3 separate regions of the Homo sapiens genome follow, and regions 1 and 3 are each linked to region 2. Evidence: fine-mapped expression QTL. A gene starts in region 2. Each other region holds a variant in brackets. All regions are shown on one strand. Distances are between the middles of the regions.

Region 1 (5,000 bases), 150 kb after region 2:
AGGGACACCCTTGATTCTCTTTGGTTATACCTGACTTCAAGACTCTTTCCAGGAAATTTACATGTTTTAAAAACAGACTGCATCTGAATTTTTTTTTAATTTTTAAATTTTATTTTTAAATTTTTGTCTGTTTTGAAACTGGGTTACGAGACTGGCTAATTTTTGTATTTTTGGTAGAGATGGGGTTTTGCCATGATGCCCAGGCTGCTCTCAGACTCCTGGGCTCAGGCAATCTGCCCGCCTCGGCCTCCCAAAGTGCTGGGATTACAGGTGTGAGCCAGCACACCTGGCCTACATCTGAATTTTGACATTAGATTCAATTACAGGACGGTGTGAATGTTTGTATGCTCTATTTCCTTTTTCTTCATCCATGGAGTGAATTGGAATGAGGGAAATGGTAGATTAATAAACCCTAGATTGCAAATTAGCAACCAGTTCTATATTAAATTACACATAAATTAGAACCAAGAACAGGAAAGAACCCCTTGCCATCTGTTCTCTAGCTGCGAGGTAGGTATTAAATGGACCAAAAAGAGCAGAGTTTTATGCATAGCAGTGGCAGTAATGGGAAAGTCATATGTTGTATAGTACTTGCTGTACTGTGCCCATGATGCCTGGCTCATGAATTGACACAGAGCAAGTTGCTATTCCATTGAAAACCATATGTTCCATGTCTCTAGTTCAGAAAAAATAATTGATTTTAATTTAACTTTGCCTACTTTCTTTGCTCTTAAAAATATGTAGACTGTAAAATGTCATTCCCTAGGCACTGTCTGGTGGTGATACCAGCAGCAGCAATAATCATTATTTGTTTAGCTGGGTATTAGGAAGAGGTAGAAATAGTAGATCTTTCCTCTAAGACAATAATTAATCTCCTCTACCCTTACAGTCTTTCTCTGAAAAAAACTTTGTGTGCGTCTGTGTATGTATATATGCATGTATGTATAAAGTGAAATGCTGACTTTAAGTGAGATATTTTTAACTTTAAAATGAATTTTGGCAGGCTAGCATATAAAAATAATGAAGAGTTATCCTTGATTGGACTTAGCTCCTTACTTTCGACCCACTAATGTGTTCAGATGATCATCATCTTTGTCTTCATTTAATGTGGCTTATTGGTTAGCTGTTGCTATGAGGTAGCTGACTGTGGCACCTATTCTAATCTTATTTTGTACATCTCTTATTCCCTAGGTTTACTAATATACTAATTTTCTTTAATAAAGAAATTTTAGAAACTTTTAACCTGAGGGTCAACAGTTAGTCTGCCATTGTCTCCATCATTACTGTGTTTCCCCACAAGATTCAGTTAGATTAATCTCTCTGGTCTTATTTCATCCAAATGTAAAGTTGTTGTTGTTTTATATATATACAGCCAGAGTGCAGTGGCATGATCTTGGCTCACTGCAGCCTCCACCTCCCTGGCTCATGTGATCCTCCTGCCTCTACCTCCTGAGTAGCTGGGATCACAGGCATGCACCACCATGCATGGCTAATTTTTATATTGCTTTTGGTAGAAATGGGGTTTTGCCATGTTGCCCAGGCTTCAAATGTAAAGTTCTTAATACTTAGCTAGTAGAAGGTAAGCCTTGAGATGAGTATTGCTGCATTAATACAGTCATCCACCAGTACCATCACTCTTGACTCTGGTTTGCTAACCTTTTATTTTTTGCTTTTCACTTTCAGCAGACCTACTCCAATGAAGTCCATTGTGTTGAAGAGATTCTGAAGGTGAGTTCACTGTTAATCTTTCTCATTTGAAGAAATATTTAAGTAGGTAGGCGTACATCCATTTACTTTCACTTTAAAGAACAGTTGCCATTGGCTGGGTGCGGTGGCTCATGCCTGTAATCCTAGCACTTTGGGAGGCCAAGGTGGGCGGATTGCTTGAGCTCCGGAGTTCACGACCAGCCTGGACAACATAGCAAAACCCCGTATCTACTAAGAAAAATACAAAAAATTAGCCAGGAGTGGTGGCACATGCCTGTAGTCCCAGCTACTCAGGAGGCTGAGTCAGGCCTCCTGAACTCGATTGAACCCGAGAGGTGGAGGCTGCTGTGAGCTGAGATCACGCCACTGCACTCCAGCCTGGGCAACAGAGTTGAAACTATGTCTC[C/CAATA]AATAAATAAATAAATAAATAAATAAATAAATAAATAAATAAATAAATAAATAAAAAATAAAGAACAGTTGTTGTTCCCAAACCCCTTTTAACCATTTCTCCCCCACTCATCTCCAAAGGCAAAAATAAACCAGAATAGTAACAGAAGTAGTCTTGGAACGTAATTGAATTCTCTACCAGATTTTATTAATTAAATTGAAGTCTACAAACTGCAAGACATTTGGACCAGATTTTTATGGCATCTCTCGTTAAGTTTTTCTGGTTGTCCATAAAGGCCCAGGAGAGTTGCTCACTTCCCAGAGAGGAAACTTCCTGTATTGATGTGTGGGAGGCACCAGTGGTTAAACAGTGCTTGATTTATACCTCTTGGCGTTCTGTAGGTGATACCTAATACCTATGGCCTCATACATACAGCCTTTTCTTCAGTGAGACGATGAAATTTTAAAGGAATGAAAGAAAAATAGTGGGAAGTAGATGGTCATCTTTAGACTTACCTTGAAGGATTACTTTTTGCTTTTGTTTATTGAAACTATGCCATGAACATTTGTGCTTCCACAAATATGTCATTGAATACATTACCCACTTGTTCAATTTTTCTTGTACAAGGATGACAGATTCCTTCTAGAACTTAATTCCAGGGGAAAAATGTTAACTTTCCTCATGAACTGGCATTCTTTCTTTTTATCAGAGAAGAATTATATATAATGTTTCCCATTTTGCCTTTAATTTCCAGGAAACCCAGAGCTTAATTTTAATGCTCAGGTACAGTAATTGTAAAAACTGAGGGTTTTGTGTATTTTTTATCCCTCTTCTGTGGCCTTTAATTTGCTTCTAGGTCAATTTTAATGATATTCTTGTCTTTTACTGTAGGGTTTCTGACTTTTTTCTTCTTTTTTTTTTTTAATTAGTAGAGAGATGTATATAATAAATGTGACTGTTAATTTGAATCACTATTGCTCATATTTTCTCAAAATACATTTACTCAATTTTAGTTTTTTAACTTTTCATTTTAAAGTATTAAGTGATGGTGGTACTAAAACCAGTAATTAAGTATATTGGTTATTTCCTCACTTGTGAAATTTTTGACAGTAGTAGTATCTAACCAGTTGTTTGGAAAACAGCTTGTTTTTGTTTCACAGTCTTTTGTCCCATTTTGTAGTTAGGGTTTTCTGAGAAAGAAAGAACCTCTAGAGAAACATACCTTTTTTTTTTTTTTTGAGACAGAGTCTCTCTCTGTCGCTCAGGCTGGGCGTGACCTTGGCCACTGCAATCTCCACCTCCTGGGTTCAAGCGATTCTTGTGCCTCAGCCACCCAAGTAGCCGGGATTACAGGTGTGCGCCAGTACGCCCTGCTAATTTTTGTATTTTTAGTAGAGACGGTGTTTCACCATCTTGGCCAGGCTGGTCTCAAATGCCTGACCTCAAGTGATCCACCCGCCTCAGCCCCTCAAAGTGTTGGGATTACAGGCGTGAGCCACCGTACCTGGCTGAGAAACATACTTTGAACTGCTAACAGTGAGGAATTTTTGTCAACCAGCATGTAAGATTAAATAAGTTACCTCGATTACATTTTTTATCATCCTTTTCCTCTTCTGTTTCTGAAATTTGTTGGTATGGTAAGTCGTAAACATACTAAGGAATTTAATTATATACTGTGGCCTTGGCATTTCCTCTGAAATTGTGCGTTATTTGTTCTATCATTATTTCAGAAGTAAATGCAACAGTGCAGGTTTGTTGTCTTCTGCATATGTCAGATGCTCCTCTTAGGTTTCGGTGTGTGTTGAAATAAGACATGTCACATCCTTTATTTAGGAATGGTGGTATTACAGCACCAGACAAGCATCTTTAATTGAAGGAACCCATCCGTCCTCCTTCCCTTCCCACCCAGGATCACGTTAGTGAATCCTTGCTTACCTCGAAATGCTTGAGAGAGAGTGGTTAATGTATAAATCATGCCCATTTATGATTTGGAAATCATAACTTGGGAAAGCAAACAGAAGGACGTCCAGGACTGAACAGGCCATAGGCCTTTTCATATTGGAGTCTGCCCCTTCTCTTCTGTCTGTGACCTCAGTTAAGTTATAGGTCGCTGCTGGGCTTTGGTTTCCTCATTGGTAAAATGAAGGCCCTGGGCTAGCGGATGATCTCCAGGGTCCATTCCAGCTCTTACTCTTGACGCTGACCCAGATGCTACTTTCCTTTGCCTCCCGGTTCCCGTTCTCATCTTGTACCAGCAATTTATTAAGATTGCCAGGAATCCAAACACAAATCTTTCTGATGGGTGATAGAGGCAGTAAGTAGTTTCCTAACAGAGAAAATCAATCATAGAAGATAATGTTTGGTTCTCTGGGGTCAGTATTTAAGGGGGAAGTGTTGTAATGAAGGGGAAGTGGTGGCCCATAACTCCAGCAGGCTAATGGAGTAAGAAGATAGCAGACATACACTGTTAGTTTTCAGGGAATGGTCATGCACTAGGGTCTAGAAAGGGCAACATGCCCTTGGTGGGTGCATGGAGACACCTCAGATTTTCTACTTACAGGCAAGCCTGGCCTCCACAGTATCTTGGGGGATTAATGTGGTACCAGCAAGCATTACCTCAGTGCAGCATTTCCATGATGCTAGTACAATGAGTGGTAGCACTATTTATATGTTCATTTGTTTATTCAACAAATACTTGTTAAGCCTCCACAGCACTAGGATGTTGTAGTGAATAAGACAGAGTGCTTGCTTTCATGGAGATCAGAGTAGGGAAGAGAAATACATAGTGTTGGGTGTTGATGGTGCTGTGAATAATGCAACAGGCCAGTAAACAGAAGGCTAGGCAGAGGGAAGAACTGGTGGAAAATCCTCGAGGTGGTATCAAGTTGGTGTATTAGAGGAACAATTA
Region 2 (7,007 bases):
CAAGTGATCCTCCTGCCTCATCCTCCCAACGTGCTGGGATTCTGAACGTGATCACAGTGCCTGGCCTTATTTTATTCTATTTTTAATCATAAGTATATGCTCAGGTTAAGATTTATTTGTTCCGCCAGGTGTGGTGGCTCACGCCTGTAATCCCAGCACTTTGGGAGGCCGAGGCGGGTGGATCACGAGGTCAGGAGATTGAGACCATCCTGTCTAACATGGTGAAACTCCGTCTCTACTAAAAATACAAAAAATTGGCCGGGCGTGGTGGCAGGCGCCTGTAGTCCCAGCTACTCAGGAGGCTGAGGCAGGAGAATGGCGTGAACCCGGGAGACGGAGCTTGCAGTGAGCCGAGATTGCACCATTGCACTCCAGCCTGGGCAATAGAGCGAGACTCTGTCTCAAAAAGAAAAAAAAAAAAAAAAAAGATTTATTCCGGGCGTGGTGGCTCACGCCTGTAATCCCAGCACTTTAGGAGGCGAAGATGGGCAGATAACCTGAGGTCCGGAGTTCGAGACCAGCCTGACCAACATGGAGAAACACCCGTCTCTACTAAAAATACAAAATTAGCAGGGCATGGTGGCGCATACCTGTAATCCCAGCTACTCGGGAGGCTGAGGCAGGAGAATCGCTTGAACCCAGGAGGTGGAGGTTGCGGCGAGCTGAGATGGTGCCATTGTACTCCAGCCTGGGGAACAAGAGTGAAACTTCATATCAAAAAAAAAAAAAAAAAAGATTTATTTATATACTTTGCGAGAATAAGTTAATGCCCTTTGAGATATACATGCAGTCATTTGGAGGAACATAATTTAAACTGCTGGCTTAAAATGCTTGGATCTTGCACAACTGCAGAGTTTAGAAGTACTTCAGTTTGACCAAACAGTTGTCCATGTTGTGATGCTGGGCACATTCCTCACCTGCCTCTATCTTAATGTTGTCTTCCCTCCTCATGGGCTGTTTAGGTGCTCTGAGAATACATCCTGTGAGCTTCTATGAGTCCCAGGGGTTTAACTAATTTGTTTTTAAATTTTAAGTAAAATCATGGCTGAAAATTGTCAGGTAACATCCCAGGAGCCCTCATATGAAGAAGCACCTAAAAAGTCCCATCATCATATTTAAAAGGGAGATTTATTTGGGGGGGTGGGGGGGTTCTGTTAAAAAAAAAAAAAAGCACCGATGTCAGAAACATGCTTCATCTTATTAGAAACATAATCTGAAATGTATGAGATTAGGTTGTCAAAATTAAGAAAGTGCTGGAATTTCATTGAGTGTGCTAAAAATGTAATTTAAGAATTCTTGTAAGGAAGATGATGGAGGAAAGTGTAGCTAACAAAGTTAAATATCTGCAACTCCATTACATAATTACTCTCCTTTTGTTTATGTCTGAAATTTAAAAAGTAGATATAAAAAATTTTTTAAAGTAGATATAGTGTAATCACTTTTTAAAATAGCCTTCTTATTGACTATTTATATAAGATGACCAGCAGAAGAGAGAGAAAGGCAACTTAAAAAATAATAATAACTCACTGGCATGGCTATCCTTTTTTATTCATTATCAGAAAATTAATTTGATTTAGTCTTTTTAAATAGCCAGTCACCATTCACGAAATAAATCAACAGAAGTGTGTACTGGAATTATTTACTTGCTTGTTTCTGCCACCACACTGGAATGTCATGAAAATAGGAGCTCTGTCTTTGTCATCAATATGGCTCGTCACCTAGCACATTGCCTTAAGAATATTGATATAAATGGAATGACTTACTCTCTGAACCAAAGCTACATCATCTTCAACAAAATTTTTGCAAAATTACAATCTTCAATTCCAAAGGCAGGAAAATAAAATGATCACACTTCCACTGTCAACATCATTTACTAAGTTGACCACAGTTTGAAGAGCCCTATAGGAGATACTATGGGATGACACAAAAAGAACACAAAAAAGGAAAACATTTTAGATAGAAGTGGTAAAAGTTTTCAGATTATAAAATATTACCATGCTAATATATATTTCACAATGAAATGTATTCATTATATAGCAAAAACGTTAAAATACTTGTTATTGATTAGAATAGAGATCAGTCTCTGTTAGAAACCTTTAAAAGGTGTACAAACACTTTGTAAGAGATGACTCCTGTCCCATCCTGCTCAGGGATGACCAGAACTTTCATCTTAGATAGATACACCACCAGGTTTCATCAGGGACACCTTAATTATTTTAGCTGTCTAGGTAAACCAATCTCCCGATGGGAGGATATGGAGTAGGGCGAAGAGTTATATTTTGGAAAACAATCCATGGGAAATTAAGTCAAGTAGCCAAAGGTTTAATTTGGAAATGCAAATATCCATCAATTAGGTTTTCAATTATGTGGACAATAAAAGAGTTGAGCAGAGCAGTAGAGACAAACAAAATTAAAAAGAGAAAAGGCAGAGAAGGCAGGGAGGGGCTTATTTTCACACATTATACCAATTTACATTACACATCATATTAAATTTAAGTAAGGCGCTTTTCTTCATCCAAATAATTTCACCCATTTTAAACCATAAAATACTGTCGGCGAAATCTCATCTGGGCCATTTGATGTAATCTTTCTGCGTCCCTTTCAGGAAGGAAGGTGCGACAACACAATGAAGACAGCCTGTTGCTTTCCTTGGTATGTTTACAGCAGGAATCGGGCAGCGACTTAACTAGACATAAGTTTCCCCTTCTTCCCATGGGTCTATTTGCCAAAGCCCCCTGCACCTATTAGAATTTTCTGAGGTTGGGCTGGTGGAGAGCAGAAACCCGGAGGCTAGATTCAGGAGACCTGGTTTCCCATGCCACTTAGTAGCCTGTGACATTGAGCACAATACTTACTTTTCGGCGCTTCCGTTTCATTATTTGGGAAATGGGAACAATATATCTGTTTTATAAGATTGTTGTGAAGATGAAACAGGCCTGTGTGTGAAAGGCCTTTTCTAAATTGTAAAGCGCTCCCCAGATGTTAGTTATTATCTCCTTTAAAGGGCACAGAATCTGTTTCAATATTATAGGAGGTTGCAAAAAGGCTCCTTGACACTTTTTGCTCAGAACTTGACCCTGAGCTTAATCTCGCCGTAAAGTGAAAGGGTTCTTGCGCCCCCACAGCAGCCCGGGGCAGGGTCACCCTCGCGACCGGGGCGGTCATTGCCGTATTCCGTCCTGAGCTGCCGCTCCCCCACGATCCTCCCACCAATCCCGGGAGGGCCGCGACGTCCCTTGCCGCTTGGGTGGCGCCAGCTAGAGGGCGCGGGCCGGGGCGGAACCCGGTACCGCAGCTCGGGAGGTGGGGGTGGGGGCGGGGCCTCGCGCGGAGGGCGTGGCCTCGGGGCGTCCCGGGCAGCCGGCGTGCTGAGCTTGCCAGCCAGCTAGCGAGCGACGGGCGCGCGCGGCCCCTGCGCACTCGGCCGCCGCCTGCGCGCGTTGCGGCCGCAGCTGCACCTTTGCCTCCGCGGTTCCGCAGCCGAGCCCCGGGAGGAGGCGCTCCCCTGCGTCGTCCGCACTTGCGCCCTTTCCCACCGCAACAGGTCAGGGGAGGGCGGAGGTGACGAGGGCGCCCGACCCGGGACTAGAGGACGGAAGGGTCTGGAAGGTGAGCGCAGCCCTGCGCCACCCAGGGCTGGGGGTCGATCCGCCCGGCCCCCGACGCCGCCGCCGCGGACTTCTCGGAAGCCGAGGCTCTCCCCGCCTCTCTGCCGGCTTCCCAGCACGCTGACTCAAGTCGCTGGCGTTCCCACTTTTCCGGTGGGAGCCCTCGGGGAGAACGGGCTAGGGCTCAGAGCTCTCACCGCCCTACTTGCGATCCCGCGGCAGGTAGCGCGTAGAAAAACAGGGGACGGGGACATGGGAAGAGACCCATGCTCCTCCCTCACGCGCAGCCCCCAAGTCAGACGTTTGCCTGTGCACCCCGCGTTTTGCGGAGAGCTGTCCCGTTGTTGGGACCTGCTACTTGAGTTGCGTAATGAGTCCCAGAAGTTTCTCGGGGGGAGGGGGCGGGGAAAAGTGGGGTTCTTCTCTCCTGCACCCCGGGACCCTTCCCTGTGCCTGTCGTGGAGAGAGATGAGGGCTTCCCGCCGCGTCTCGCTGAGAGCAGGAGGGAGGCGTGTGTCGGTGGTCCGTAGCCTCCGGGGAGGAGTTGGAGCCACCTTCTGAGACTTAACTTCAGGGACAGAGGGAGAGGCGTCTTTAGTATGGGACTGGTTAATTTCTCTTGATAATGCTTTTTTCCCTCGGGTGTCCCATCCTCTGTGGCCGTCGCAACCCCACCCTCCGACGGTGCGAGCGCCGGAGCCAGCGAATGAGAGGGGAGAGAAGGTGGAGAGTGTGAATCACACGTTACCTTAGTGTAATGGTAGTTGCATTAATGGAGCTGCGACGGGCCTGCGGGCGGTTCGATACCGTCCGGCTAGTTTTCTCTTCCCGGAGCTTCTCCACCACCAGCACCCGCAAATTGTTATGCAGATCATCCCGGGAAGGCACTTGGCTTTGGAGGTGGAGATGTGTCCGAATCTCCCTTGAACCAGTCTCTGTTAGGGGGAAAGGCCTTGCAGCCAAGTGATTTGTTTTAAGGGTGGAGCCGGAGATAATTTTAAACACCCTCCCCCTTGGTGCACGTTGCGGGGTGTGACTCACCACGGGGAAATCAGACTGATTTAAAACCTTCAGTGCAAACTTGTAAATTAAGGCGAAGACCCAGTGTTCCCTGGGACAGTTGCAAAGTGAGAAGAGCTCAGAAACTGAAGCACAGAAACGTTAGGTAGGAGTCTGAGAGGCGTGGAGAATTTTGCTTGTGCAAGATTATTTCAGAGCAAGGTCGTGCGGTGTGTGTAGAAGGTAGGTGGCCGTGGGTTACCTCTCTCAGACCTGCGTGGTGTTGGCCTCTGGGTGGGGATAAAAGTCACGAAAAAGACCTTTGGACCCAGAGTCTAGTTTTTTTTCTTTGGGGCCGAAGAATACCTAGGCATGGCCCTGTTTCAGTGTTTACTTCCTCTGTCTAATGTATTTCCTTAGCTCGCCTTTCATCTTTAGTGGGAAGGATTACTTGAGTGGATATTCCGGAAGTAGATTCACAGGAGAATGGAAAATTCTGGATGGTTTGCTTGCTTTAATTTCAAGGTGTTGTCTCTTGTGGATGTTGGGAAGTATTGTACTTGAATATTTGAAGATAAATATGGAGAAAAGCAGTGGTGAGAACTAAAGGAAAATGATCCAAGGGGAGATGAGAGAAAGCAACAAAATACATAAGTAGTACGTAAAACTAGAGAAACTCACTGGAATTAAGCCATTTTTATGGAGAGAAAGAACCAAGGAAATAATTTGGGATAGATTTGGTCACTTTGAGACAAATAGAGATTGAAGAGTGGGACTTTTGGGGAAAATGAGTTTAGATATTGGAGACTTTTCTTTTTTCAAATATAACTTACAAGGATGTTGAGGCTGGAGATGTGAGACTTGCAGGTATGTTGCTGTGAATTCTTTGCTTTTCACCTGCAAGAAAATGAACTGTTAAATATTAATCTGCCTTATTCACTGTAACAATTGAATTTGTGGCTTTGGCATTTGCTTAACTCTTCAACTTTGCAAAACTATAATTTTGAAGAATCACAGTGTGTTAAATTAGAATACAAAGATCATTTAGAGATTGAAAATTTATGACAAAAGTCCAGGCCATTGTAAACATTGCTTTCTCCTACATGCGTAACAGGCATGCATTTTTTGCCACCAGAATCACTAATCTACTATAGGGTAATAAGACTATATCAAAACTAGCTGTCTCTTCTGTTTCCTCTCCGGTTTAACTGAATTTTGCAGAGCTGGTTGAGGTGAAAGTTACTTTTTTAATTGACTGAGAACTTGCTTAATTAGGTTTTGGATTAAATTTGGAAGAGACTATTCAATTAAAATACATATATATTTATCAGGCACCTTTACAAGTCACTTTATTTATTTTTGAGACAGGTTCTCACTCTGTCACTTAGGCTGGAGTGCGGTGGCACGATCATAGCTCACTGCAACCTCCAACTCCTGGGCTCATGGGATCCTCCCTCCTCAGCCTCCCAAATAGCTGGGATTACAAGCATATGCCACCATGCCCGGCTAATTTAAAAAATCTTTTGGTAGAGATGGCTTGGGGTGGGGGTGGGGGTGGGGGGCTCCCTATGTTACCCAGGTGGGTCTTGAACTCCTGGCTCAAGCAGTCCTCCCACTTTTGCCTCCTCAAGTGCTGAGATTACAGGTGGAAGCCACCGTGCCTGGCCTACAAGTCACTTTAGCCAGGTGATTGTTTAGTTGAAGTTTCATATTGCCTTGAAAGTTGAAAAGAGGGGTGAAAAAATTGAGCTTAGAAAGGGTAAACTTGTTTTCAATATTTTTTGAAAAGCTGATGGAAGGAGTTCTATGTTCAACTCTGTAATTTGTGGGCCCAAAGTTCCTTTATTTCAAGGCTCTAGACCATTAACTAATTTTTTGGGAGATTGAGAAAGTATGTTAGAGAGAGTGCAAATTAAGGAACCTCATTGGGGCCAGGTGTGGTGGCTCACGCCTGTAATCCCAACACTTTGGGAGGCTGAGGCGAGCGGATCACTTGAGGTCAGCGGTTCTGGACCAGCCTGACCAATATGGGGAAACCCCATCTCTACTAAAAATACAAAAAGTAGCTGGGCATGATGGCGTGCTCCTGTAATTACGCTTCCTCGGGAGGCTAAGGCAGGAAAGTCGCTTGAACCCAGGAGGCGGAGGTTGCAGTGAGCCGAGATTGCACTGCTGCACTCCAGCCTGGGCCACAGAGCAAGACTCCGTCTCAAAAAAAAAAAAAAAAAAGAAAAGGAAAAAAGTAAGTGTATTTACCATAAATATACAGAGTTTGATTAGTGATATTTTCCTCAAATAATAAATTCAACAATGGTTTCTGAAGTTTAATTGGCAGTTGCTTTCTAGTAGTCTCTTTTTTTAAGACACAGTAGAAGCTTATTTAATAGTGTTGATTTGGAT
Region 3 (5,000 bases), 24 kb after region 2:
CTGAGAGTTGGAGGAGAATGAATTAATATTAATAATTATTTTGTGCCTTCAGTATAGTGGACACTAGTCCAGGCATTTGGCATTATATCATTTTAGGTGCTAAACTTGGTCCAGGTGGTAGATAAGATGAACACTGAGTTGAATTGCTGGGGATAACATTGTCTTTGTAGGGATACTAATTTTATACTGTCTTGATGTGGGAAAGAACCATTTTTCTTTCTGGAGGCCTTCCATTATAACAGTACTTTTCTTCTGAAGCCATACTAGTCAGCCTACTTTAGGAAGAAGAGAATTTCAGTTCCAGTTTCTCCTGTTTTGCAGAAGCTGGGGAACCATTATTTCAAAATCTGAGTCATGTTTTCTATGCTCTGTAAGGTATTCATATCAGTAGCCTAATTTTACTGGAGAAAGCAAAAGCCTGGAGAGACCTTCATAGCTGAGTATGTGAATCAGACTGTGGGGAATGCTGGGGCAACTAGTTCATTTTTGGTTGGAAATTTTTTTTTCTTTTTTCTTGAGATGGAATCTCACTCTGTTGCCCAGGCTGGAGTGCAGTGTTGTGATCTCCGCTCACTGCAACCTCTGCCTCTTGGGTTCAAGCAATTCTCCTGCCCCAGCCTCCCAAGTATCTGGGACTACAGGTGCATGCCACCACACCTGGCTAATTTTTTATTTTTAATAGAGACAGGGTTTCACCATGTTGGCCAGGCTGGTCTCAAACTCCTGACCTCAGGTGATCCTCCCACCTCAGCCTCCCAAAGTGCTGGGATTACAGGCGTGAGCCACCATGCCCAGCCCTGAGCCACTGCGCCTAGCCTGATTTTGCCATACTTAAAAAAACAAACAAACAACTATCCTTTTTCCTCTTTTTCTTTGCTGAACTATTTTAAAGCAAATTCCATTTCACTTCTTCATACTTTATGTGCATCTCTAAAAATATATGGACATTTCCCTACTTAAATACATACCCGTCTCACACCTAATAAAATTAACATCTTGGATTCGTCTAATACCTAGTCTATCTCTGAACTTTTTCTTTTTTTTTCCTTTTTTTTTTTTTTTTTTTGAAACGGAGTTTCACTCTTGTTGCCCAAGCTGGAGTGCAGTGGTGCCATCTGGGCTCACTGCAACTTCCACCTCTCAGGTTCAAGCAATTCTTCTGCCTCAGCCTCCCGAGTAGCTGAGATTACAGGTGCACATCACCATGCCTGGCTAATTTTTTGTATTTTTAGTAGAAACGGGGTTTCACCATGTTAGGCTGGTCTCAAACTCCTGACCTCAAGTGATCTGCCCAACTCAGCCTCCCAAAGTGCTGGGATTACAGGCGTGAGTCACCGTGCCCGGCCCCAAACTTTCTAGATTGTTTTAAAATGTCTTTTAAAATTGTTTTTAGCCAGGTGCGGTGGCTCATGCCTGTAATTCCAGCATTTTGGGAGGCCACGGTGGGTAAATCACCTGAGGGTCAGGAGTTCGAGACCAGCCTGACCTACATGGTGAAACCCCGTCTCTACTGAAAATAAAAAATTAGCCGGGTGTGGTGGTACGTGCCTGTAGTCCCAGCTACTCGGGAGGCTGAGGCAGGCGAACCACTTCAACCCAGGAGGCAGAGGTTGCAGTGAGCCGAGATTGTGCCACTGCACTCCAGCCTGGGAGACAGAGTAAGACTCTCTCAAAAAAATAAAATAAAATAAATAATAAATAATAAAATTGTCTTCATCTTGATCCAAGGAAACCAAAGTTCACATATTGCATTAGGTTTTGTTTCTTGAGTCTTAATCCAGAGCAGCATTTACTCTATTTACTTGTGGGGTGGGAGCATTTACTAGTTAAGGAAACAGTTGCATGTATGTCCTACTTCTTGGATTTGTTTGTTTCCTATTAATGCGTTTAACTTGTTTCGATATAGCAGTAGTTCTCAACGGAGGACAATTTTGTCTCCCTCTCTTCCAGGGGACATTTGACAATGTCTAGAGAGATTTTTAGTCATCACAATCTAGTGAGTAGAGGCCAGGGATGTTATTAAACATCTACAATGCACAGAACAGCCCCCACCACAAATAATTTCCTGGTTTCTAATGTCAATAGTGCTGAGATTGAGAAACTGTCAGCCTATCCCATGTATTTCCTGAAGAATGGAAGTTAGCACTAAAAGCTTGGTTAGAGTCAAGATAACTCTTTTTGCTTAAAATAGTTAAATTGCCCAGGAGTGCCGGTATTCTGTTTTGATCTGGGTGTTGGTTACAAGAGTATATCATTTTGTGAAAATTTATATGTGAGCTCTACACTTTAAAAAATGTGTGTTATTTTTAATTTTAAAAGTTTACATTAAAAAAAGAAACCTCTTTATTGTGTTGGGTCCCTTCCTCTTTTTGTCTGCTACTTCACACTTCTTAAATAGTTGAATAAATCTTTAAAGCCTCACTCCCTTTTAAAGTTCCTTAATACTCTTTTTTTTTTTTTTT[T/C]CCCAATGTGAGAGACTGGTAGAGATGGGGGAAAAAATGGGTGCCTTTTGAACTCATTGTTGGGATGGTTGAGTGTCTGTTAGGGAAGTCAGAGTGCTGGTACTTTCCTTGCTCTGCAGAAAATTGCAGAGTTGCCCTAAGGGAGGGACACCTAAACGATAAGTAACGTTAGGCCACTTGGGTTTTGTGTAAAGCTGAAAGGAGAAAGTCATTCCAGATGGGATGGTTTGAAAGCAGAGGTTGGCTTTCATGAGCTGTGGAATTTGGGAAAGGGGCATTCTGGGCTGAAAGAACCAGGGAAGGTAAGGAATGCATTAGGGGTGTGCTGGGAACCTTTTCTTGAGCGATGTCTTAAAGCCAGCTTCTCTTCTCTGTCTCTGATAAATAATTGGAAGGAAAGGCAATGAATTTTTTTCTGACAGTTGGTTCTAACTGGGGGCCAGGGCCTCGTTTGCAAATGAAAGGACTGCTGTTGGAGTAGTTGAAATCACAATGGGCCCTGACTCTTTTCACATCAAAGTGTAAAAGAATCTCCAGGGGTGATAAATGGGGGCTGCTGGACTCATTACTTGTAAACAAAGCTGAGGGATGACCTCTACATTTTTTTTTAATTAAAGGAAAACAGGGTTTCCTAGTGGTGAGCATGGGGCTGCTCTTCGTTTGAATTTTGACTGTTCACACTGGAAAAGATCTTTCTTTAAGGTTACAAGGGAGCTGCCGCTGTTACCCAGGATTTACCCTGAATCTCAAACACTACTGGAAAAATGCTGTGCCTAGGACGGCCCAGCAGGTATCCTGCATGTGTTGAGAATTGAAGTGCAGTGGGTTCCGCTGCGTTGTTACAGTAAAGTGGAACAGGGCAGAATTTCTGAGTGCTGCTCCTCTCAGGAGACTGAGGGCTCCTTTACTCCTTTTCCCACCCGACATCAGGAGGAAAACTCCTTTATTCCTGTGCAGTGTAGAAAAAGGTCCGTTTTTAAGTAAATTCTTAGCTCTTTGTAAAAGAAGTCCAAAGGCAGTGGTTTTAGAGTTTAAAGATAGTATTTCTTTATATTTGTGTAGTTACAAGGCTTTGAGTATGATCAAAACGTTTAACCAAAACTAAAGTATGTGCATACTTTATGGTGTTGAAAGCAATGCTACTAAAAATAGTACAACATTTTATGGGATTAAGATTGCAAATTGCTGCCTAAATTCAGCTTGCAGTTAAGGCCTACCTTCAGTAAACTCTCGTTGTGTAGTCAGCTCCCCACCAAGCTTATCTCTTGCTGTTTTTCCACTTGGCTCCTCTGTTGCAGTCAGTCCAAGCCCTACCAGATTTTAAACAACTGGAGGTCAGAGACTGCCCTTTGTAACCTGAGTGGAACTGGTAAGGCACTGGGCACCCAAGAATTCTAATGTGTTTACTGACTTTCCACATGTTTAGTAATCACCTTCTGAGCCTATCTTCCAAGCAAGTTGTAAGACTTGAGAAAGGAGCAGAGGTCACAGCTGGCAAGGAGCACAGCATCCCTGGATGGTTGACAGAGACAAGCTATCCTCCAGATGAAATATTTCCAACTACAGATGAGAGTATTGAAGGCCTTCCATTCCCCTTTGATATCAGAATGGTGAGAATGTGGGAGACACCACCAGTTAACCCTGCCTTCATGAGTACAGATACCCATGAAAATATTTAATAAGCGCAGTGACCAGACGAGACCTGTGCTAAGTATTTGATAGGCATGCTTTCAATCTCGTAACTCCCTATGAGGTTATGTTTTACAGATGAAAAAGGGAAAAGGAAGATACTCATCAGTGGCTAGCTTCCTTCCATCACCGAACCCTCAAGTCCCTGTTCCCTTTTTGTCTTTGTAGAAGCTGGTGGCAGGGATATACTTTCTGAGCTCTGGTTTAAAACTCTGAGTTTTGGGCCACAGATCCCCTCTAGCTGACTCTTCTTTTTTGACATGAATGAGATAAAAAGTTGTTCCTGGGAGATAGTTTCAGCATGGCTACAGTAGTCAGAGAAACGTGCATCTTTTCCAGTGAAGGAACAAAGCTGATTTCTTTGCACTGGGGCATAGTGGGGGTGTGGGAAGGGGGGGCTGAGTGATGGGAATAGGGGTCACTACTGAGTCATATGGCAGGAAAAAGATGAAAAGATTAGTTACCCAAAAAAAAAAAAATTAAGGAATGGAGGTGGTTCCCATCCTAAATTAGAATCTCCCCAGTTTGCGTTTCAGAGCCCTTTTCATCGCCGTGGTGAGATGATGTGTGCTCTCTCAGAGCACTTTGTGGTCTGTTACAGCATTGCACAGATGTCAGGTGGCTGCCCTGTTAATAAATCAACCTCTCAACGGTTAGAAGTTGTAGCAGTTCTCGTTTTAGATTATCTTTCTACATCCGGCAGAGGCTTACTGTCCCCCGCAGAGCACTTGGTAAACGAGATATGAAATTGTCCTTTAAGAATGGAGGTTTAATTTTCCAGTAGGACAGAGTATTCAATAAATGAGAGTGGAGACTATATTTTATTTGTCTAAAATATATGTTTTTTAA

Direction of the effects. Positions count from the first base shown, and alleles are read on the strand shown. Sizes are in standard deviations (SD) of each study's normalised expression. Not every link is listed here.
For the expression in Th17 cells of the gene that starts at base 3,380 in region 2, C is the high allele of the variant in region 1 and CAATA is the other (large effect, 1.6 SD a copy in Schmiedel 2018).

The links.
Region 1: its variant is fine-mapped to the expression of AFF1 in Th17 cells (Schmiedel 2018, PIP 0.95).
Region 3: its variant is fine-mapped to the expression of AFF1 in whole blood (INTERVAL, PIP above 0.99).

What each region holds. Positions count from the first base shown.
Region 1 is chr4:87,082,437-87,087,436 of GRCh38, forward strand. AFF1 (ALF transcription elongation factor 1) reads left to right here. Exons shown (of 21, transcript NM_001166693.3): 5 at 1,684-1,728. Among named protein-coding and RNA genes, the nearest start is that of KLHL8, 140 kb to the right of the region's middle. The variant C/CAATA (reference allele first, on the strand shown) is at 2,114.
Region 2 is chr4:86,931,632-86,938,638 of GRCh38, forward strand. AFF1 (ALF transcription elongation factor 1) reads left to right here and starts at 3,380. Exons shown (of 21, transcript NM_001166693.3): 1 at 3,380-3,609. AFF1-AS1 (AFF1 antisense RNA 1) reads right to left here and starts at 3,219. Exons shown (of 3, transcript NR_038841.1): 1 at 2,856-3,219; 2 at 1,764-1,911. It also overlaps a transcript of C4orf36 not described here. RefSeq lists silencers at 3,085-3,834, 4,305-4,443 and enhancers at 3,756-4,297, 4,298-4,839, 4,695-4,814.
Region 3 is chr4:86,957,045-86,962,044 of GRCh38, forward strand. The region is part of intron 2 of AFF1 (ALF transcription elongation factor 1); the gene reads left to right. Among named protein-coding and RNA genes, the nearest start is that of AFF1, 25 kb to the left of the region's middle. RefSeq lists enhancers at 306-355, 883-1,466, 2,176-2,848, 2,849-3,520 and a silencer at 3,693-3,987. The variant T/C (reference allele first, on the strand shown) is at 2,463.